3 linked regions of the Homo sapiens genome follow. The protein of the gene in region 2 interacts with the protein of the main gene of each other region in a pairwise test. Each region holds a gene or a part of one and is shown on either strand. Other genes may lie near its edges.

Region 1 (7,022 bases), on a different chromosome or scaffold from region 2:
TGGCTGCAAATCTCAGTTCAAATCTCTTTCACCCCAGTGTGAGGTGAGCTGTAACAGAGAAGAAACCTAAATAATACAACATTCCTGTATAATGGTATTTCAAAGAATCGTGTTCATAGTGTCTGTATGTAAACTGAACTTGAAGAAAATATATTGAAATTAAAGCTGTATAATGGGCCATTTACTGAGTGTTTCTTATGGATGCTGTAGAAGAAATTAACTTTTCTTGGCCATATAGATGTTTAAATTTTCACTAATGTCTTCTTGAAAAACCTTATTAAAAAAAAAGACCCTTTGAAAAATGTTTTTATTTTTGAAGAGAAAAAAAGTTGGTATGTCCTAAGTTCTGGTATCAATGTGCCTTGGTATAACAAAATATTTATTTCTGTATCATAGCAAATTCTCTAAGTGGAGAAAGGATAGTAAAAAAATAATCTTTCGTAAGTCAAATAGCCTTTCAAGGTGAAATATTTTGGGAGAAAAATAGCATATTAGGCCAGTTTTAGATTTAACCTCTGATACAGATTGAGAGACTGGTCCATGAGTCTGGTTAATCAAGGGCAGTGTGATGGATGGTGAGAGTTTGTCCAACAAGGCAGTAAGGCCACTTCAAAATTTAGGGAGGCTACTGTCATTCTAGGGGAGGAGACTGGGTTCATTAGCCCAAGAGGATTCTAGCAGACTGGTTTGGGCCACAGGTTGTGAAGCCCAGTGGTCTGCAGAGGTGAGCAAGTGGACATGTCCATGTCAGTCCAAAGGTACAGCAGGTTACAGACTGCAAGAGCCTAGTTGTTCTTGAGGTGATCCCAAAACCATGGTATCAGTAACAATGGTTGTAAGCCAGTCAGTCTTGGACAGTAAGTTCATAAATTGAGAAAGCTGATAGTTAAGAGAACCAAATTCAGAACAGGTAGAAGGGAGCAAGTAGGCCAGCAGGAGTAACCCCACAACATGCCTGTCACCACTGATGTAAACATGCACTAATTGTTCTCTGCCCTGTTACCACCTCTCTCCTAAGGGCAATTGGTAGGTAAGGACTCACTATTGCATTTTGGTACTCAGTGTTCAAACAGTAGACTTCCAAGCCATAATTTATTCATTCTTGAAGCTAAAACAAAGGCATTTCGGCCGGGCATGGTGGCTCGTGCCTGTAATCCCAGCAATTTGGGAGGCCAAGGCGAGTGTATCACTTTAGCTCAGGAGTTCGAGACCAGCCTGGCCAACATGGCAAAACCCTGTCTCTACAAAAAATACAAAAATTAGTTGGGCATGTTGGAGCACACCAGTAATCCCAGCTACTTGGGAGGCTGAGGCAAGAGAATCACTTGAACCCAGGAGACAGAGGTTGCAGTGAGCCAAGATCATGACACTGCACTCCAGCCTGGGTGACAGAGTGAGAATCTGCCAAAAAAAAAAAAAAAAAAAAAAAAGCATTTCTGGGGAGTTTTAGTAACTTCTCATTCATTTTTAAATAATAGGTTAACTGAAAGAGCAAAAAAGAGACGCACTTCTTCACAATCTATTGGACAAGTTATGCCTAATAGCAGGCAAGAGGATCCAGGTCCTATTCAAGTAAGGCAAGAAGCTACACATTAAAATATGGCCTCTTTTAACATTACTTCTTTTTTCCTTTTCTCTATCTTTAGGGCTCTAATACTTTTTTGTTTGTTTGTTTTGTTTTTTTGAGAGAGGATCTCTCTCTGTTGCCCAGACTGGAGTGCAGTGGTACGATCTCAGCTCACTGCAGCCTCGACCTCCTGGGCCCAAGCAATGCTCCCACCTCAGCCTCCCAAGTAGCTGAGACTTCAGGCACATGCCACCATGCCCAGCTAATTTTGTTCATTTTTTTGTAGCGACAAAGTCTCACTATGTTGCCCAGGCTGGTCTCAAACTCCTGAGCTCAAGGGATCCTTCCGCCTCAGCTTCCCAAAGTGCTAGGATTACAGGTGTGAGCCAACGCACCCAGCCTCTAACACTTCTAAAAATGTGCTTTAAGTTTCTTTTTTTCTTCCTGAGTTGAAAATAGGCCATTATTTTCTAAGTGCTTTCACAATTAATTAAGTTCATATATCTTAATTTATCACAATTAATTAAGTTCATATATCTTAATTTATGTATTTAACATGTGACTTAGGCAGAGTAAGTTAAGATTTCCACCTTTGAAAGTCACAAGAAGTTTTGTTTTTTTCACTCCCAAAAAATGTTTTTAATATCTTTATGGATTAAAAACAATTGCCAAATAAACACAACTTATTTTCACTAGAAAAAATAATCAAAATAATCGATGTAGTTCATCCCCCTCCCAACTTTTGTTTTGTTTTGTTTTTGGCTTATTTTGCATTATTCATCGCTAATGGGACCTCACAACTTTTTACATAGGAAATTGATTTATTCAAAATTGAAGCACAATGTTAATTATAATAACAAAAAACTGAAAACAATACAAACCTGTCCAAAAGCAGATGACTAAGTACATTAGGGTACATTCATACAGTGGAATACTAAACATTACATTGTGGAAGAGTGTTCATTGATCTAGACAAGATTTTATCATCTGTTTTCAAATGAACAAAAATCTGGTAACACAGAAGGTTTCCCAGATGCTGGATGTGCAATACATTTTTTCCTTTGGGTTTTCCCAGTGTTTACAAAGCATATCATTTTCTAGGTAGATAAAGAAGTTATTAAGAAAATGAACTGAAGCAATTTGTTCAAAGTCAGAGTGCAGTGAATAGTATTAAAAATGAAAAGTTAAGTTTGTGGTTCTGGCCAGGCACAGTGGCTCTCACCTGTAATCCTAGCATTTTGGGAGACTGAGCTGGGAGGATTGCTTGATCCCAGGAATTTGAGATCAGCCTGGGCGACATAACGGACCCTGTCTGTACAAAAAATGAAATAAAATAAATTAGTCGTGTGTGGTGGCATGTGGCTGTGGTTTCAGACTCGGGGGCTAAGATGGGACTATGGCTTGAGCCCAAGAGGTTGAGGCTGCAGCCGTAATGGCGCCACTGTATTTCAGCCTGGACAACAAAGCAAGACTCTGTCTTAATAATAATAATAATAATAATAATAAGGCCAGATGCAGTGGCTCATGTTTGTAATCCCAGCATTTTGGGAGCCCAAGGCAGAAGGGTCACTTGAGCCCAGGAGTTTGAGATCAGCCTAGTCAACCTAACAAGACCCCATCTCTACGAAAAATTTAAAAATTAACCAGGCATGGTGGTATGTGCCTGTAGTCCCAGTTACTTAAGAGACTGAGGTGGGAAGATCACTTGAGCCCAGGGGGTTGACGCTGCAATGAGTCATGATCATGCCAATGCACTCAAAATAATAATAATAATAATAATATTATTATTATTATTATTATTGTGGTTCTCATGACCAAGACTATTATGCTCAGAATATTAAATATGCTAGAAATGTTTGCTTTATGAAACTTTTATTGGAGTTTGATCTGTTGATATGTTCAATAGTGTTCTATTCTAAATCTTCTTAATTATTAAATTAATTGTTATGTCTATCTTATACCATCCAAATGGCTAGCAATTCTAGGATTGTCATTCTACAAATAGTTAGACACATTTCTTCAACTAACTCTTGTTTGTTTGTTTAGAGCCAAATGGAGAAGGGTATATTTAATGAGCGAACAGGTCACAGTGACCAAATGGCAAATGAGAACAAAAGGAAGCTGAATTTTTCCAGATCTGACAGGAAAGAATTCCATTTTCCAGAATTGCCTGTCACAATACAGTCAAAAGATACAAAAGGAATGGAAGGTACACATTTGTTGCATAGCTTTACAATTATGATGATATCATTTATAAGATTTTTTCATAATATAACTTACATTTTATAGTGTGATTTAGGTAGAAAATAGTAAATTGGTGAGGAAAACATTTCAGCTGATGAGATTTTCTCCCCATTGTCAAATAAGGGGTATGATTTTAAGGAGATAATTTTAAAGAGGCTTAGGCGTGTAATCCCAGCATTTTGGGAGGCCAATGCAGGAGGATTGCTTGGGCCCAGGAGTTTGAGACAAGCCTGGGCAACATAGCAAAACCCTGTCTCTACAAAAAATAAAATAGCTTGGTGTGGTGGTGTGTGCCTGTAGTCCCAGCTACTCCAGAGGCTGAGGTAGGAGGATTGCTTGACCCAGGAAGTTGAGACTGCAGTGAGCCATGATCACGCCACTGTACTGCACTCCAGGATGACATAATGAGACCCTGTCTCTAAAAAAAAAAAATTTTTTTTTAATTAAAAAGAAAAATAAAGAGAGGTTAAGACAGCTTTAAAAGGTAAATTATTAAAATTTATTTATTTATTTATTTATTTAAGACAGAGTCTCACTCTGCTGCCCAGGCTGGAGTGCAGTGTTGCAATCTCAGCTCAGTGCAACCACCACCTCCCAGGTTCAAGTGATTCTCGTGCCTAGCCTCCTGAGTAGCTGGGACTACAGGTGCCCACCAACACGCCTGGCTAATTTTTGTATTTTTAGTAGAGACGGGGGGGGGGTTCCACCATTTTGGACAGGCTGATTTCGAACTCCTGACCTCAGGTGATCCACCTGTCTCAACCTCCCAAAGTGCTGGGATTACAGGCGTGAGCCATTGCAGCTGGCTGCAAAGGATAAATTTTTTATTAGCTCAATGTTGTTGAAATGTTAGAATAGTATTTGAGAAATTTGTTTAGTATATGACCTGGGGTAAATTGCCTTTCTATGTTTCTTCATGATCATTTACCCATATAGTAGCAGAAATTTTATATGTATTTTGAGCATCCAAGGATTAAATATATAAGATTTATAGGCTGGGCACAGTGGCTCACACCTGTAATCCCAGCACTTTGGGAAGCCAAGGTGGGCGGATCACCTGAGGTCAGGAATTTGAGACCACCCTGGCCAATATGGCAAAACCCCATCTCTATTAGCCAGGCATGGTGGCTCATGCCTGTAATCCCGGCTACTTGGGAGGCTGAGGCAGGAAAATCACTTGAAACCGGGAGGCGGAGGTTGCAGTGAGCCGAGATCGCGCCACTGCACTCCAGCCTGGGTGACAGAGTGAGACTCCATCTCAAAAAAAAAAAAAATTTATGAACTTAAGATTTATATCAGAATGAAACGCACTTTTGTCTTGAATAAATGTTATGTTTCTTTGAAGAACAGTGACACCTTGTGAAAAATTAATATAATAGCAAGAATATCATCCTTGTACAGTTCAAGAGGAATTATCTGATCCACTTAACAGTTACACTGAGAATAATAAAATAAAATAAAATAAAATAAATGTCTTATTTTAATACTTAGTAGACTATTTGTAAAGTTATAAAACAAATAATTTACCATATTTTACCATTACAACTCATAATTTATTTTGTTCCTTTGTAATAAACTGAGAAACTGACTTAGTGGATTTCTATTTGAAATTCTTGGAAAGGAAAGTAAAATTTCAAAGTAGGAATAACAAATTTTCATTGTTTTGTATATTTTTGCAAAAGTTAAACAGATAAAAATGCTGAAGAGGGAGTCAAAGAAAACAGAGTCATCTAAGATACCAACTTTACTTAACGTGGATCAAAATCAAGAAAAACAAGAGGTAACTCTTTTTGTATATAGCTTTTACTAAGGCATGTTGTTTAGAGGACTTGACTCAGTGTATAAATTTAGTTATTACTATTGGAAAGCTATATAAAAATTCAAAATTTTATAATCTTTGAACTAAAGAAACAGATCTATATTTTCCTAGAATAACCCATTAATAAAAGTTTCTAAAAGTTATTTTTTGGTGGGTAATGTTGAATGATTAGAATGCATGGCACCCAGGGAAAATATTATCTGTATTGTGTGTAGTGTCAGATATCAGGCAGGTAAGTCAGACTAGTGAAAATGAATAATGGTATAAATATATGGTTATATGGCCACAAGCATGTGTGTCTTTGCCTTTAAGCCTCTTCCTTCCTTCGTTTTCTCTCCAGTTTATTCCCTTATCTCTGCTGTCTGCCTGCTGTCCTATTTTCACAAATATTTGCTCTCAGCTAACTATCAGGTAATCTTGTTGAAATATTCCCAGTCCCTACCCACCAGAGAGATTCTCAAATTTTATTTGAAAATCTTGAAGCCTGTAATATCCAAATGAATGCTCTATAAAGACAGTCTTTTAAGAGAGAGAGATTGTGCTGAGCACCCACTGAATTAAATCATATCGATGGCCTCCTATTCTACACTTGTGAGGTCATCTCTGTATGTGATTTATCAACTTCTGTTTTTGTGTTTGTTTGTTTGTTTGTTTGTTTGTTTTTGAGACGGAGTGTCTCTCTGTTGCCCAGGCTGGAGTGCAGTGGCGCGATCTCGGCTCACTGCAACCTCTGCCTCCCGGGTTCAAGCAATTCTCCTGCCTCAGCCTCCCAAGTAGCTGGGACTACAGGCACACGCCACCACACCCAGCTATTTTTTTTAAAAAATATTTTTAGTAGAGACGGGGTTTCACTGTGTTAGCCAGGATGGTCTCGATCTCCTGACCTCGTGATCCACCCGCCTGGGCCTCCCAAAGTGCTGGGATTATAGGTGTGAGCCGCCGCATCTGGCCCAACTTCTGTTTTTTTAAAAAATAAAATTTATTACAGTTTTACTCATGATAAAATTAGTAAATACTTATTAAGAAAATTTGAAGAAATTAAAAATATTTTAAAAAATCTGAAACTCTGTAAGAAGGCATTTTAACAAGGCTACTTGATCTCTATAATATTTGGATAGAGGGTTATCAGACACTATTAGATGTATTCTCACTGTGACATTTAGGGCTATCTCTTTAGTCTTGGCCTAGAGCTTGTTAAGAACTCCACAGTCCACTTTGCAGAGAAGAAATGTTGTAGAACAAGAATGCCATTAGGCCGGGCACAGTGGCTCACACCTGTAATCCCAGCACTTTGGGAGGCTGAAGAGGGTGGATCACCTGAAGTCAGGAGTTCAAGACCAGCCTGGCCAATGTGGTGAAACCCCTTCTCTACTAAAAATACAAAAATTAGCT
Region 2 (7,216 bases):
AATCCCCAAACAGTATAAGCAATGAAATCCCTACTCAGAAAACACCATAATCAAAATGCTGAAAACTAAAGACAAAGAAAAAAATCTTGAAAGTATCTAGGAAAAAATAATTACATGAACAGGAATAATTTTCGTTTTACAATAATATTGGATTTATGGAAGAGTTGTCAAGATAACACAGAGTGTTTCCAGAAACTCTTCACCCAGTTTCCTCGATGTTAACCCAAAAGGCAATGAGGAAATCTAAATGACCAGGTTCCAGAGGAAGAAGAAACAAGTGTCTGGTGCCCAGAGACGACCAGATGCCCCACCAGTTCTGATCCATAGGAGAATGATCGTTCCACATGGCCAACTCCATCCTCATGCAGCAATTCCTCCACAAGCACAAGACAAGCTTGTCCTGATGTTCCTTGCCCTGGCAGATGTTCAGGACCTTCCTTTGATTCAACCCCTCCACCTAAATGGCCCAAGCTTTCGGGGCTGTCATTGTGAAGACCCCTTCCTATAAACCACAAGGCCCTACAGGTGCTGGACACTGTTGTTCTCACAAACACATCTCATGTCCACTTTTGCAGAGACTGAGGTACTTCAAGCTCCTTCCACCCTTGCATTCACTTTGTTCCTGTCTCTGTCTTGAAATGCTATTTCTTCCCCCTCTTTGCGAATCTCTCCCTCATCTTTCAGGTCTTAAATGTATGCCTTTGAAGAAGCTTTCACTGATTTCCCAGGCAAAATTAATTCCTCCTGTTCCTCTTTTTCATCACATTCTGTGTTTTTTAACTTTCTATAAAAACACTTATTGCAATGTGCAATTGTGTAACGATGTGATTATTTGTTGAATGTGCACATCAGTATCTCCATGATGACACGGATTGGATCGGGTTTTTGTTCATTTGCTGTATCAAGTGTTCTCAGAGTCACAGGGGGAAGGTGGTTATGGCATTGGGTGTGACACTTTTCCTTGCACAGATGTATTAGATTTTGTTCAGTAACAAAGCATAAAACCCAACCTCCCAGTGGCTTATAAAACAAACATTTACTTCTCAGTCATAGGTCTGTGGGTGAGTTGTCTTCTCTCTAGGCTTGGCTGTGCTCAGGTTTTGGGTTGGCTTCATTCTCAGGTCTGTTTGTCATTCAAGGGCCCAAGCTGAAGAGGGGGTTGTGGCCTAACCATGGTCGTGTTGTGCTGGACGTCACAGCAGAGGAGGAGGCGCAGAACAAAGGCTGCTCTCAAAACCTCTACTCAGACCCGGCCCACTCTCATCTGCTGGTATCCTGCTGTTTCAAAACCAGCCAGAGGGCCCAAGGTCAACATGAGGGAGAAATCAACCTCCCCCGCCTGTGAGACATAATGTTTCCAAACGGTCCCTTACTGGGCTGCTCTGTAACCACATCAGACCCTGGCACCCGGGACTGCACACTGCGGGCCCCATGGCCTGGGCCTCACAATTCTTAGAAACAGGTTCCACTCAGGAGGCCATGGGTGTCCCAAGTGAGGAACAACGTGCTCCAAATGTCACCCATCAGAGTTGTCGGAAAAGGAGGAAAACTTTGTCAAGGACCTTGGGTCAGTGCATTTCAGGAAAGCCCTGCCCCCGCGTTGACGCCACAGTGTACTTTTACAAAGCCCCTTAGTATCAAATTCAAGGTTGTCACTTACTGTCCGCTGATGTTTATTGAAAGCCTCTTGGGTGCTGGGAAGTGCACTTTTGGGTGGCGACACAGGCGAGAAGCCAGGCTTGGGTCAGGCCTTTCCTTTGTGGTTTCCCATCCCTCCACCTTCCCACAGAGTTGTCCCTTTAATTTAGACTCATCCCCACAACCCCTGTGAACCAGCAAGGGACAGCCAGGCAGAGCCCAGGTGACATGAACATAAAACAAATGAGACAAGAGGATTCATTGATACAAAACCAGGATGTCAGGAACCGTCACTTGAGAAATGCATTCTAGTGCTTTAGAACTCTTGTGAATTATGTTATCGGGTTAGTGGAAACGTGGGAAGTCTTTTCCTAGCCATATGCGAAAAGATTGTCTTTACACAGTAGGCAGACCAAAAATACACGCAGAATGAGTGGGAAACCCCATATGTGGTATGGGAGAAGGGGGAGCGCCAGCAGCAGATGCGCCATGACTTGAGTACTGGCCGTGTCCACACATTGTGCTAACTGCAGTGGCTGCTTTACTGCTTGGTGACGCAACCCTATGACAGAGTACTATTATTATCCCCCTATAAACACACAGCATCCACAGGATTGAAATGCAACTTCAAGAGCTACGCAAACAAGAATAAAGCGAGTACACGGTATCATGTCTGATGAGTGTGAACTTTCGTGGCAGAAGACTTGGTTCTGGTTCTGTCCAGGCCACTGGAACCCACTATCTGTGGGTGCAGGTGATTTTCCATCATGGAGCTAATACCTTAGCTGGGCATTATTTCACTTAATCCTTACAAGTGCCTTATTAGGTGCTTTCCATAGCTCTCCTTCAGCTGAGGTTTAGAGAAGTTAAACAATTTACCCAATATGTGAACTGGATATGTCTGACTCTACAACCGGTCTCTTCCATCCTATTTCCTCCATATAAGCCGTAACTTGGGTGCTTTTGTGAACATCAAAAAAGATGCGTATAAAGTCGCCTTGGGGAACGTTAAACCAAAGTCAATTAACATTACAAAATCAACTGAGGCCATATAGAACTTCCTTTAGAAAATTAACACATCCAATCATCATATTATTTCCCAAATGTTTACTTAGGTGCCTGTTGCAAGCACTATCTTATGTCATCTTCAATAAGCCCAAGAGGAAGCTTCTGCTCTAATCTTTAGATATTAAATTACGCGTTTCGGGGAAACTTCGCGTGTGAGGTAAAGCAACATGAGCGACTCTAAGGCGGCGCGGCATTGCTGTCCGGCCTCCTGCATCTCGGTGAGCAGAAAACGCGGGAGCGGGAGGGACTTCCCAGCTCCCGACGCCAGACACAGGCACAGCCGCCGCGTCAGAGGGAAGGCGACGTGGTTCAACAGCAACGGAGCCATTACTGGCGCTGAGCAGGGATGTTAAGGACAGAGCCAAGTTATCAGAGCTCTCCGAATCGAGTCCAGGGTCTGGACTGCCACAGACGGGTCGCCGCCTCCAGCCCCTGGACTTTTCCTTGGAGTGTCCGGGCGCGGACCTACTAGCTCCGAAGCCCTATGGGTGATCCCTTTCTGCTGGGCAACTGGGGTTGCGCTTTACACTACAAATCGAAGACGTCGCTTTTTCCATTTGTTCTGCAAGTGTTTATTGTGCACCGTCCACTCCCCCACAAACTCAATGTGCCGGCGGCAAGAGGCAAGACCGCAGACCCGTGGGCGCGCCTCCCGGTGTCGGCCGGTGTGCGCGGAGGGCGAAAGTGGCCGGGGCGCCCGCTCCGAGACGCGGCAGAGCCCCGCAGCCTCAGCGCCCGGCCTGCGCGCGCCCGGGGGAGGCTCTGGCCCACGCACATGCACACGCACGGGAGCGCTGGCTCCCGCGTCCCCGGCGCTGCGCCGGCGCCGGGCGCGGGCGGAAGCCCACGAACCAGGGCGGGAGGGAGCTTGAGGCGGGGCGGGTGTCCGCGAGCAGCGCTCGTGCTTAAGTTCCCTGGCTCCCGAAGCCCCGCCCTTGCCCCGCCCACTCCTTCTCCCGCGCGCGGGCTCCGCGCGCCCCAAGCCGCGCGCGTGCGCGCGCGTGCGCAGGCCAGGGCCCTCCGGGGGCGGCCCCGTAGTCTCCAACGAAAGCGTCGGCAAGGGCCCGGATTAACCCTTTCTTTGCTCGCCCACTTAGAGACCCGGTCGGGTTCCGTGCCTGCGCAAGCCGGCGGCGCGCCTTCCCCCCAGCCCGCACCGCGCATGCACGGGAAGGGGGGGGCGGTGGGGGTGTTCACGGCCGGCTAGACATTCTGTGCTCGTGCAGGAGGAGGGCTGCTACCATCAGGGACGTGCACGATTTCCCCCACCCCGCCCCCTCCCCAAACTCCAAAAAAAAATCCAAAACACACTGCCACCCACCGTGCCCCCGCGCCCCGAGCCCCTCCGGTCCCGGCCTGCGTTTGCTAGCGAGCGCGGGGAACCCACGGCAGTGTCTGTGCCTGTGCCAGGCTGCAGGTAAGCGCGGGCCAGGGTGCGGAAGGGGCTGGGGCCGTCCGCAAGGCGGGCGCGGGGGCGGCCGGCGGCTGGCGGGGCGGCCCGGAAGACGCGCGTTCTCGCCGAGCTCTGGGGCACCAGCCAGCTCCAGGATGTGCGGCGGCCGCCAGCGGCGCGGCGCGGTGCGAGCGGGGACGGGCGTGGGCCAGGGTTGGGCGTGGGGCCGGGGCGCCCCGGGGGCCGCGCGGGCCGGCGAGCGGGCTCGGGGAGCGGCCAGGCGGCGGCGGCCCCGCGCGCGCGCTCGCAGAGCCTCGGCGGCCGAGTTCATGGCCGCCCCCGCTCGCACCGCCGCAGTGCACCGCGGTGGGGGTGGGGACGGCCCGAACCCAGCGCGGAGCGCGGCCCGCCGGGCGCCGCCCCTCCGAGCCGCGGGCCCCGCCGCGCCGCCTACAGCCGCCGGCGGAGGAGGGGGCCGGGACCCAGCGCACGCACTCCCGGGTGCGCCCGCGGAGCTTGGGTTAGCCGGCCGCGCGCCGCCCCCGCCCCCGGCCGCGGGAGGGCGGGGGAGGGCCCGGCGCGAGCTGGCCGGGGAGTGCGCGGGGCGCGAGCTCCGGGCTCGCGGGCGGAGCGGGGCGCGGCGCGGCGCGGGGCTGCGGAGCCGGCCGCACGCCCGCTCCCGCTCGTCGCGCCGCCGGGGCCGCCGCGGGCCGCAGTCCCTCCCTGCGCGCTCCGAGCCGCGGTCCCAAGCCTGCGCTCGACGTCTGATTATGAAAGGGAAAGTGGCCCTTTCACCACCTGGCTCCCAGGCTGGGAGCTTTTGTCTGGGAAGGAGTGCAAACGGCCTCCTCCACTCCCCACCTCCCAGGCCCAAAGAAATTGAGAGGGAGGACTCGATACGCCTTGAGGGCTTCTTGGGTCTGCGCTTGGCTCCCTGCTTCCTCCCGACTCCGAAGTTGCAAGCTTGCAACAAGGAAGTCGTGCAGCCGCCATTGTCGGGCTGCCCGGGGCAGGGGAGGCGGCTGCAGCTGCTTATGTAAGTTTTTGGCTTTGCGGGAAGCCCGGCTCCCTGCACTGTAACGCGGCTTAGCGCGCCCGCAGTTTGGAGAGCAATTAGGAAGGGGCAGCCTTATTATGAAGGTGGTGTTGGGGCTACGTCTTTTCCTACACCTGCCTACACAGATGCTGGCAACAGCTGTCTTCCAGTTTTGACTCACCTGAACTGAGCAATTGGACATCTCAATGGCAAGGGGGGCGGGGCGGGGAGGAGGCGGCTTTGGACACACATGGTCTCTCTTCCAGGTCTCATACATCTTGAGAGAGAGAGGGGAGAGGGGCGAGTGGCCAAGTACACACTAGCCAAAACAACAACAACACATTGATATGTTGTCATAGCTAGTCTAAGGCCACTCCTCTCTCTGGTCCCATGCACTTTTATCCCACAAGCCCTAGGACGAGTTAGTGACAACAGTAGTAAGTGTCACAGTGTAAGGTTTTTGCTGGGCTGCCTAGCCTCTGGATGATTACAGGCCTGGGTGCTTCTAGGGAATAGAGAGGCAGAAACACGTAGAATGATCAAGTCAGAATCATCTTTTGGAAATGTTGCCTAACCTCAAACTTCAGATGAGACATCCCGCTTCTACGCTGGGTAGCTCGGTGTGTTCACTTTTCTTTAGAAGGAGCTTATTATGGGTTTCAAGGTGTTGGTCTCCAGGTTGGAGTCTTGTTCCATGGTTTTTGTGTAAGACTGTTACAGCCCAGTCCTTTGCTCCTACCACACCAAACAACTTATCTGTGTGGTCACTGTTCAGTAGAGGAAACTTTTTGTTTTTCAGGATATGGGTCTGCAGGATGGAGTTCTTCCGGTAAGAGTTAAAACTCACAAAAAAGCTGAAATTCTTTCACCCTTATTGTAGGGATAGAGGTAAAAACACCTGGATTTATCAAATACAATCTTAAAAACAAACGTGTATGCTATTAATACATCACACAGGTGCAGAAAGAAAAAGCAATCATTGTTCCCTCTCCTCCCATGTTACCTGTTGGGTTTATGTACTTCTATAGCTTTATTTGTAAGGTATATACTTCTATAGGTTTGTATGAGCCGAGAGAAAAATGTAGAGGGCTAACATACCCAGCGGGAAATGGGATAGGTGTAGGGGGCACGGTGCACTTGTTTTTTTCTATATCTGTGTAGCCATCAATCTCTGTACAAATATGGACATGAGCTTAGTGTGTGAGGAGAAATCCCTTAATGGTTCTCCAACCCCTCCTTCCAGTTCCTAGGGCACAGCCCCTTTATGCCCGAGTGCTACAGCCCTTATCTGTTCTAGTCCATATCTGTTCAGAACTGCACTTGATGTACCAGCTACCTACCTGCCACTCTCCCCAACCTGAAAATGCACAAAAGAGGGAACAAGAAAGTTTATTTTTAAAAAATCAATTCTTGGTTTAGGATTTGGGATACAGGAAGATCCTACCTCATTCTTGTTTATCCTTTCCTCTGTAGGTCTGGCGTGCTCCTGATCAGAGTTACTCTGATCTGAAGATTTTGGCGTTCAAGGCATTAAGATAATAGCCTGAGTTGTTCATGGTAACTATAACTTTGGATATTAAATCTTGATGAAAATGACTTGGCATTTGCTTTAAAATATATATACCAATTCTGATTGTGCATGAACACTTCTATTTGTCTGGGGGAAAATATTAGCCGAATAAAAGTAAAACAATGTTTTTAAAAAGGAAACATAGAGAATGCTTTAAGATGACCAGTTTTTTAACATGATGACAGAGATCTTTCATGCCAGTTCCAAATTTTTGCTTATAAAATACTCTCAGCACTTATCAAGTACTTACATCTGGTGTTGATGGCACTTTTATCTGGATGCAGGTAGATTGGCATCTAGAGAGAACAAAGCCACTTCCCAAATGTCATCTCATTCTCTTAAGGTCAGATTAAACCTTGACCTTCATTTAGAAGTGGCCCAAAAGTGCTGTGGAAAATCTAGAACACAACACTCAATGGGATATTTTGGCAGTAATGTTCCTCTCTAGTTCTGCAATAGTAATTTGTTCCTTCTGTCAAGGAGGTATAACATAATTATTTTGCTGAATCCT
Region 3 (7,803 bases), on a different chromosome or scaffold from region 2:
ATTTTTAGTAGAGATGGGGTTTCTCTATGTTGGTCACGCTGGTCTTGAACTCCCAACCTCAGGTGATCCACCCACCTCAGCCTCCCAAAGTGATGGGATTACAGATGTGAGCCACCGCGCCCGGCCCTGTTCATTTTTAATTGTCTGATTTCCCTCACCAGACTGAAAATTCTGTGAGGATGTGAGCTATATATACACTGAATAGTTAATGACTAGCACTTAATAAATGTTCAATATTTGTTGAAAAGATAAGGTTGCCCCATTAGGAGTGAGATTTTATTTTTTCTTTTTATTTATTTATTTTTTTGAGACATAGTCTCACTCTGTTGCCCAGGCTGGAGTGCAGTTTTTGCATCTCAGCTCACTGCAACCTCCGCCTCCCGGGTTCAGGCAATTCTGCCTCAGCGCCCCCTAGTAGCTGGGATTACAGGCGCGTGCCACCACGTCCGGCTACTTTTTGTATTTTTAGTAGAGACCGGGTTTTGCCATGTTGGCCAGGCTGGCCTCAAACTCCTGACCTCAAGTGATCTACCTGCCTCAGCCTCCCAAAGTGCTGGGAGGAGTGAGATTTTAATTGCGAATTACAGAATACTGCGTTACCTGTGTCATCATCAGTCATATAACAGGATATGTGGACCAACATCTCTGACTAAGGCTAGATTCAAGGAACAGGCATCAGTGCCCAATATGGGCACTGCAAGGGGGGTGCGTGTGTATGCCAGAGCTGGGAGGGTGTATAGGGATGGTGCAGGGGTTGGGGGGTTGGGGGGCAGTGTGGGGTGGGATGAGTGGTCTGGCTTTGGCAAAACCAAAGAGCTGAAAGAGGCCTATTGTGATGGGTGGTTCTCAAATCAATCTTGTGGGTTAGGTATAATATTTGACTTTACTACATTTTATAGATAATAAGGTTAAGGCAAATTAACCTTTAAAAATCAAGATGGAGACCCAAGCCAACCAGTGAAGAAAGCAGAGCCTATTTCCTGCACTCTTCCTGCCTTCTTAATGCCTCTTCCCCCAGCCTGTGCCCCCTGGCTATCAGGCCCACTGTGGCAGCTTACCCAGCTTTACTTTTGGATCCCTCATGTGTGGTGGTCTCAGAACAGTACCAAACTCTTAAGACTTGGCTTCCTTTTTTTTTTTGTAGGATCCTGTCCTTTCCAAACTAGATTATTGTATAAACTGATCCCTCCTAAGGTAATAACAGTTTCTAACACAAATTTGCAGTTTAACAGGGCACTGTGGAAGCATATCTGCAACTTAGAAGTGACTGACTCCTTTACCACAGCAAGCCAAAGTTGAGTTTAATCTTTGGGAAGGCACACAAATGACACTCCCACTGGCAACTCATTTACATAGATTGCTCTTTAGAGGAGACACACATTCTTTCATTTGGTTCTCATAGAGCTGAGATGGGAAAAAAGAGACAATTATTATAGTTATTTTACAGATAAGGAAACTGAGGTTTAAGGAAATTATGTCCTAACACCACCTAGGAAGTGGCAGGGAATGGATCCTAATACAGAACTCTTCAATCCTTTTTCTCCATCACGTTGCCTTGTTGCCTACTGAAAATTGTGTTGAGGGGTAGCTTCATCATGAACAAAATCGGTCCTAGCACTCTGATCCTGGTTCATGTTCAGGGTCTCAGTCTGCCTTACTCTGGATAACTTCAAGTTGTTTGTCTGTTGGTGAAAGATTGGTCACAAAAGGTGTTGCTAAAGATGTTCTCATTAACAATTTTACTGTAGATTAAAGAGATCAGAATTCCAAAATATCCAGTGATTTCAGTTAGTCCTCAATCATAAGTTTGGTGTCTGAGAAGCTTTGGACACATGGTATTAGGAAATTTTTTCTATCTGCAGATTGCTAGTTTAAATTCAAGATTCCCATCTTTTTTTTTTTTTTTTTTTTTTGAGACTGGGTCTGAGATCTCAGCTCACTGCAACCCTCACCTCCCAAGTTCAAGCGATTCTCCTGCCTCAGCCTTCCGAGTAACTAGGATTACAGGGGCGCACCACCACGCCCGGCTAAATTTTGTATTTTTAGTACAGACGGGGTTTCACCATGTTGGTCAGGCTGGTCTCGAACTCCTGACCTCGTAACCCGCCCACCTCGGCCTCCCAAAGTGCTGGGATTATAGGCACGAGCCACCGCGCCCGGCCAAGATTCCCATCTTTTAAGTGAATTGAGCAGATGGCAGACCCTGCCCTCTACCTGCTGGACTGGTGTCCACAACAGATTTAACAATGAAAACTGATCAGTGAAAAGGCCGTCTCGCTGTACCCTAAAGAGCTGTTTAGGAAACACTGAAACCTCAGTGATTTGCTTATCTGTATCCGTGTCTGATTTAGCCAGTGAACACGTGATGGTTTTAAACACACATCTTTAGAGCACTATGTTGAGATCCGCTTATAACCAAGATCTTAAGGTAATAACGAAACACACCTGACAGAACAGTTTTCCTCAAATTACTATATATAGCCAGATATATCTCTATATATCCATTCCCGAGATGCTGGAGAGTAGAGAGTAAAATTCTATACTTTGCACTTGCCAGAAGCAGAGTAACATAAATGTTGTCTAGGAAGCTTTTACAACAGACTGGTGAAAATTAAAACACTTTTCAACGCCTCGATTTAGAGTAATTTTCGTGAGCGTAGAGAAGGGGCTGGGCCAGGACCACCAAGTAGGGACTATGTGCACAGGGACCCGCGTTTACCAGCCTGCCCTCAGCTGGGCGGGGAACCGGACAGCCCTCAGCCTGCACCCAGCCCATGCGAGGTCCCAGCCCAAGTCCCGCCCCAGTATTACCGATGCCCCAGCGGGCTGAGCCACTTTCTCCTCCTCTTCGTCCTCCAAGATCGCCTCCGCTGCCGCCAGGGCCTTTAAGGGGTCTTCGCGTTCGTACTGGGCGACCCGCGCTCCAGTGATGGGATTTACCGGGGTCTGGAGACTGGAGGCCACCAGCTTCGCCACTCGGTGGGAGGTGGCCATCGCCCCGCCTCCGAGGCCTGAGCGCCTGCGCTGGCCCGGGACGGGAAAGCTGGTGCGGCCCCTGGCAACCCGGGGGCGCCTAGCTAGGGAGCCGGTTGCTATGGGCGCCGTAACTGGGGACGCTACAGGAGCCGCCAGGGACCAAAAGTCACGCAAAATCCACTCAGGCTGCCAGAGACCCGAGTCGGGTGCTTACTGGATCATGGCAGTCAGTACCGAGTCTGTTGGCTGGTTCCGAAGGTTGGCAGGCTGAACAGGGCACTTATTCCACTCCTTTGCGTCTAACCGCCTGAACGCAGACTTCTCACATTATACAATGAAACAACTGCTTTTGTGAAGAAAAGAACGCTTTTTTATTAACTGCAATAACATGTTAGAAGGAGACAGTTGATGGAGGAGACGGCGGCGGCGGAGGAAAGCAGGGCGTGTTACTGGGTGGCGGTCTCAGAAGAGTGACAAGGTTGGCGTCCCGCTACCTAACATGTCTCCCGCGGGGGCCAGAGTGGGAAGGAGGGCGGTACATTCTACTCTGATTGACTTGAGGGCTAGCAGGAATCCACCAATCAGAAGGAGGCTCCCAGTTGTCCCTCTCGCTTTTTTCTTGACATGACCAATAAAAGCCCAGAGTTGGGTGGCGCCTGACCCTCCCACTAATGAGTGATAGTGCAGGTATTGTAAACCTGGCGTTTGCTTTGGGTTCTTCAGCTTGAGAGTGACAGGATTGAACGGCACAAGTGCCCAAGAGTCACCACAGACACATCCATCTCCCTCATCCGTATCTTCTCTTCCCACTCGGGATTTGGACGCATCAAATGGCGCCTTCCCTCTGCACCACGTGGCAGTAAGAGAAGCCAAACCTCAAAATAGCGGACGTGGTGCAGTCTCAGACATCTGCTCCCTGAGCCCCTGCTTACTGAGGCCGAGGCTGCCGCCCCCTATCTACTCCCTATCTACCCCCTCTCTATCCTTTGCCCTCCTCCTGCTCCCCAGCCCTACGACCGGCCCCCTCCGGTCAGTATTTTCCTCGTTATGCGCTGCACATCGTCGAGAACCCGTCTCTAAGGTCTGAGCCCTTACCAAACCTTTGTTCTCCTGTCTGGGTGTGAGCACCTACAAAGTCTCCTACGTCCCCACTTCCTTCAGGCTGCTCTTGGTTTTAGCTGAACAGTTGCTTCCCATGCTGGAACAGATGCTGACTGGGTTCTAAGCAGAAGCCAGAGCCAGAACCATGAGATATGCACCGCCAGGTGTGGCCAAGTTTCCAGGGGAGCAATTTCCAGTCAGACACGGCAGCCAGTTTTGTGGCTACAAAACTGCCTCAGCCTCCGGAGTAGCTGGGATTACAGGCGCACTCCCGGGAGGCGGAGGTTGCAGTGAGCCGGGATGGCGCCACTGCACTCCAGCCTGGGCAATAAAGCAAGACTCCGTCTCACCACCACCACCACCAACAAAAGTATTGATAAGGAATTATAGCAGATGAATTATAAATAATGAAATATCCTATTCTCTTTACTGTAAATTCCTCATAGACAATTGCTTCTCTCAGAATGCTTTCGTTGGTTTATGCTGTACTCCTGTATTTGTGGCCAACTTATGGTTGCAATTGTTTAACAACCTAGTTCCAACATGAATGTTGGTTAATATTTTTGTTTTTATTTGTGATTAAGATGAGAGTGACATATCCAAGATCTATGTCAGAATTTCACTTGTCAATGTTATGAGCAACTTCTTTGCTGAAATAGATAATCATTTTCTAACACTGGAATAATTTTTCTTAATTTTTTCTGCAAGTCACAATGTAAAGGCTACAGATAACACAAACTTTTAAGTTTACTCTGCATTAATATTTTCCACATCCGTTTCTTAAGTTTAAATGTCCAATGTTTAGCTTTTGCTGATTTCCATGATGTCAATATTCCCATCATAGCCAATTTCAAGCCACCAATGTGACATCACTTAATAAGAATTTGAGAAAAGATGTCTAGTAGCACACCATTATATAGTATTTCCACCATACAGATACAGTAGATGCAAGGAACATAAAAGAAAGTGAAGAGTTTTAAGAAATTATCTTTGTTTTTGACATAATTTATTGTAATTAACAAAACAATTTTTTTTTTTTTAAGATGGAGTCTCCTTGTCACCCAGGCTGGAGTGCAGTGACGTGATCTCGGCTCACTGCAACTTCCGCCTCCCAGGTTCAAGCGATTCTCCTGCCTCAACCTCCCGAATAGCTGGGACTACAGGTGCCTGCCAACACGCCTAGCAAATGTTGTATTTTTAGTAGAGGGCAGGGTTTCACCATGTTGACCAGGCTGGTCTTAAAATCCTGACCTCAGGTGATCCGCCTGCTTTGGCCTCCCAAAGCACTGGGATTACAGATATGAGCCACCACGCCCAGCCAAGTTAGACATTATAAAAGAAAAATAACTAGAAAAGCCTTTTTAGTTGGGAAATTTAAAACTCTTCAAAAAACAATTTGTGCATTACAGAAAAAGTCATGGCAGAAATTATCTAGAGAGTCAAATAACAACAAAAATACAATGTGTCAAAATGTCTTAAATGTAAAATGGTGCAGCCACTTTTTAAAAGTTTAGGCCTTCTTTCTCCCACCGTCCCTCATGTTCTTCCTTTCCATCTTGGGCCTGGCAGAATGGCTCCTGCAAAGAAGGGTGGCAAGAAGATGAGCTGTTCTGCCATCAACAAGGTAGTGACCCAAGAACACACTTGGGTCACTAGCTCACATCCATGGAGTGGGCTTCAAGAAGCATGCTCTGTGGGCATTCAAAGAGATTCAGAAATTTGCCATGAAGATGGGCACTCCAGATGTGTGCATTGATACCAGGCTTAACAAGGCTATCAGGGCCAAAGGAATAAGGAATGTCCCACACCATGTACATGTGCGATTGTTCAGAAAACATAACAAGGATGAAAATTCACCAAACAAGCTCAATACTGTGGTTACCTGTATACCTGTTACCACTTTCAAAAATCTAGATAGTCAGTGTGGATGAGAACTAACTGCCAATTGTCATATATGTCAAATAAAGCTATAAACCCGCTAAAAATAATTGTGACGGCTCCTCTGAAAGTTGAATATACAATTACTATATGACTCACTCCTAGGTATATACCAAAGATAATTGAAAACATGTTCACACAAAAACTTGTGCAGTGTGGAAGAAAATGAAGTAACTAAGGTGAAGGCTTTCTAAAGTGGAGTCAGGAGATTGCTAGGGGATTGCATTCACACCTGCTAAAAAGTCAAACCACCGAATAGACCTGTAGAAACAACTGAAGTCAGTAAGTATCTGCCAGCCTTCATCATCTCTCAGCGTGAGTACCCTAATTAACCAACCAATCAGAATGGGTTTGAGATTTAAGAGTTCTACCCAGCCAATGAACTGCCTCTGAAAACTTCTTGTGGGAATCCCCTATTTAAAAAACCCTCTCCTGTGCTTGCCTTATGAGACACTATTCAGGGCTGCTCTGATTCACTGTACGTGAATTGCAATTCTTTGTTTCTCAAATAAATTAAATGCTATTTCCTTTGACCTCTGTGTCTCAATCTTTTTTCTTTTTTTTTTTTTTTTTTTTTTTTTGTCGCCCATGCTGGGATGCAGTGGCATGATCTCAGCCCACAGCAACGTCTGCCTCCCGGGCTTGAAAGATCCTCCCATCTCAGCCTCCAGAGTAGCTGGGACTGTAGGCGCGGGCCACTACACCCAGCTTATTATTATTATTATTATTTTGTAGGGTTTCACTTATGTTTTCACTTATGTTGCCCAGGCTGGTCTCGGGCTCAAGCAATCCGCCCTCCTCAGCCTCTCAAAGTGCTGGGATTACTGGCATGAGCCACCATGCCCAGCCTCGATCTTTGTTGTAGTTAACACAAATGTTCAAAGCAGCATTAATAGGAGCCAAAAGATGGAAACACTTCACATGTCCTTCAGCTGTTGAATGGATAAACAAAATGTGGTGTATGCATATAATGAAATGTTACTGAGCCACTCCCCCAACAAGTGGGCTTTCCCTCTGGTCCAGGAGGTCCAGTGCACTTTGGGTTAGGCAGCAATCTCAGAGCTCAGAAGCAAAATGACCTTCCAAGAAACAAGTGCAAGACAAGATCATTGGTTCAGCAACAAATAGATGCTACTGAAGGAGCTGAAATTTGCAGGATGCCTAGAAAAAAGGCAGACATAAGCAAAGTAAATTTGGAGGCTAATAAAGACTTAGATAACAATATGAATAATGGAAATCCTTGGGTTTGAAGAAGATGCCGTGATTGAGTTTATATTCAACCAGGTGGAAGTGGAGACCTGAACCAAAATGGAAGTTATTCCTTGCATCTCAAGTATAACATCATCATTGTATTAGGTCTCAGCAAAATGAACATCCCAATGTCACACTGCACTCCCTTATGTGTTTGGAAAATCCAGACTCCAAAATGATACAAAGCAATCTGACTGGGTTTTTGAATGAAATTACTAGAGAATTATGGGAGAACTGTAGTCCCTGCTGTTAAACGCACAAGAAGACATCACTGGAATCTCTTCTGCTTTCCTAGAACTGAAGAAAGAAGAAAAAAAAAAAAAACAGAGACAGACAGAACAAGAAAAAAAAAACCTGGTGTCTATGAAAAAGCAATATAAGGAGAAAAATAAGGATAAAGAAGAAAAAAGAAAGCAGAGAAAAAGGGGAGAGGTCTTAAAGCCCAAGAAAATGTAAATTCAGATCTCCTTCTCCTAAAAGAGGATCCTACCCTGTCAGGAGCAAGAGAATGCACAGTCATTTTCAATCTCCCCATCA

Evidence for each region. Proteins that work in one complex are often made in the same cells at the same time.
Region 1: the proteins of ZBTB14 (region 2) and CDKL3 interact in binary tests that used the Homo sapiens proteins (3 or more experiments, as listed by UniProt).
Region 3: the proteins of ZBTB14 (region 2) and FAM161A interact in binary tests that used the Homo sapiens proteins (3 or more experiments, as listed by UniProt).

Annotation. Positions count from the first base shown.
Region 1 is NC_000005.10:134,301,159-134,308,180, reverse strand, and holds part of CDKL3 (cyclin-dependent kinase-like 3), read left to right. Parts: coding exon 1-43; coding exon of another isoform or gene 44-47; exon of another isoform or gene 48-180; intron 181-1,478; coding exon 1,479-1,572; intron 1,573-3,613; coding exon 3,614-3,776; intron 3,777-5,493; coding exon 5,494-5,591; intron 5,592-5,970; coding exon of another isoform or gene 5,971-6,041; intron 6,042-7,022.
Region 2 is NC_000018.10:5,292,720-5,299,935, reverse strand, and holds the start of ZBTB14 (zinc finger and BTB domain-containing protein 14), read left to right. Parts: upstream 1-4,209; 5' UTR 4,210-4,284; intron 4,285-4,514; exon of another isoform or gene 4,515-5,755; intron 5,756-5,934; 5' UTR 5,935-5,964; intron 5,965-6,608; 5' UTR 6,609-6,689; coding exon 6,690-6,692; intron 6,693-7,216. UniProt on the Homo sapiens protein: Transcriptional activator of the dopamine transporter (DAT), binding it's promoter at the consensus sequence 5'-CCTGCACAGTTCACGGA-3'. Binds to 5'-d(GCC)(n)-3' trinucleotide repeats in promoter regions and acts as a repressor of the FMR1 gene.
Region 3 is NC_000002.12:61,851,048-61,858,850, forward strand, and holds the start of FAM161A (protein FAM161A), read right to left. Parts: upstream 3,014-7,803; 5' UTR 2,995-3,013; coding exon 2,812-2,994; intron 1-2,811. UniProt on the Homo sapiens protein: Involved in ciliogenesis.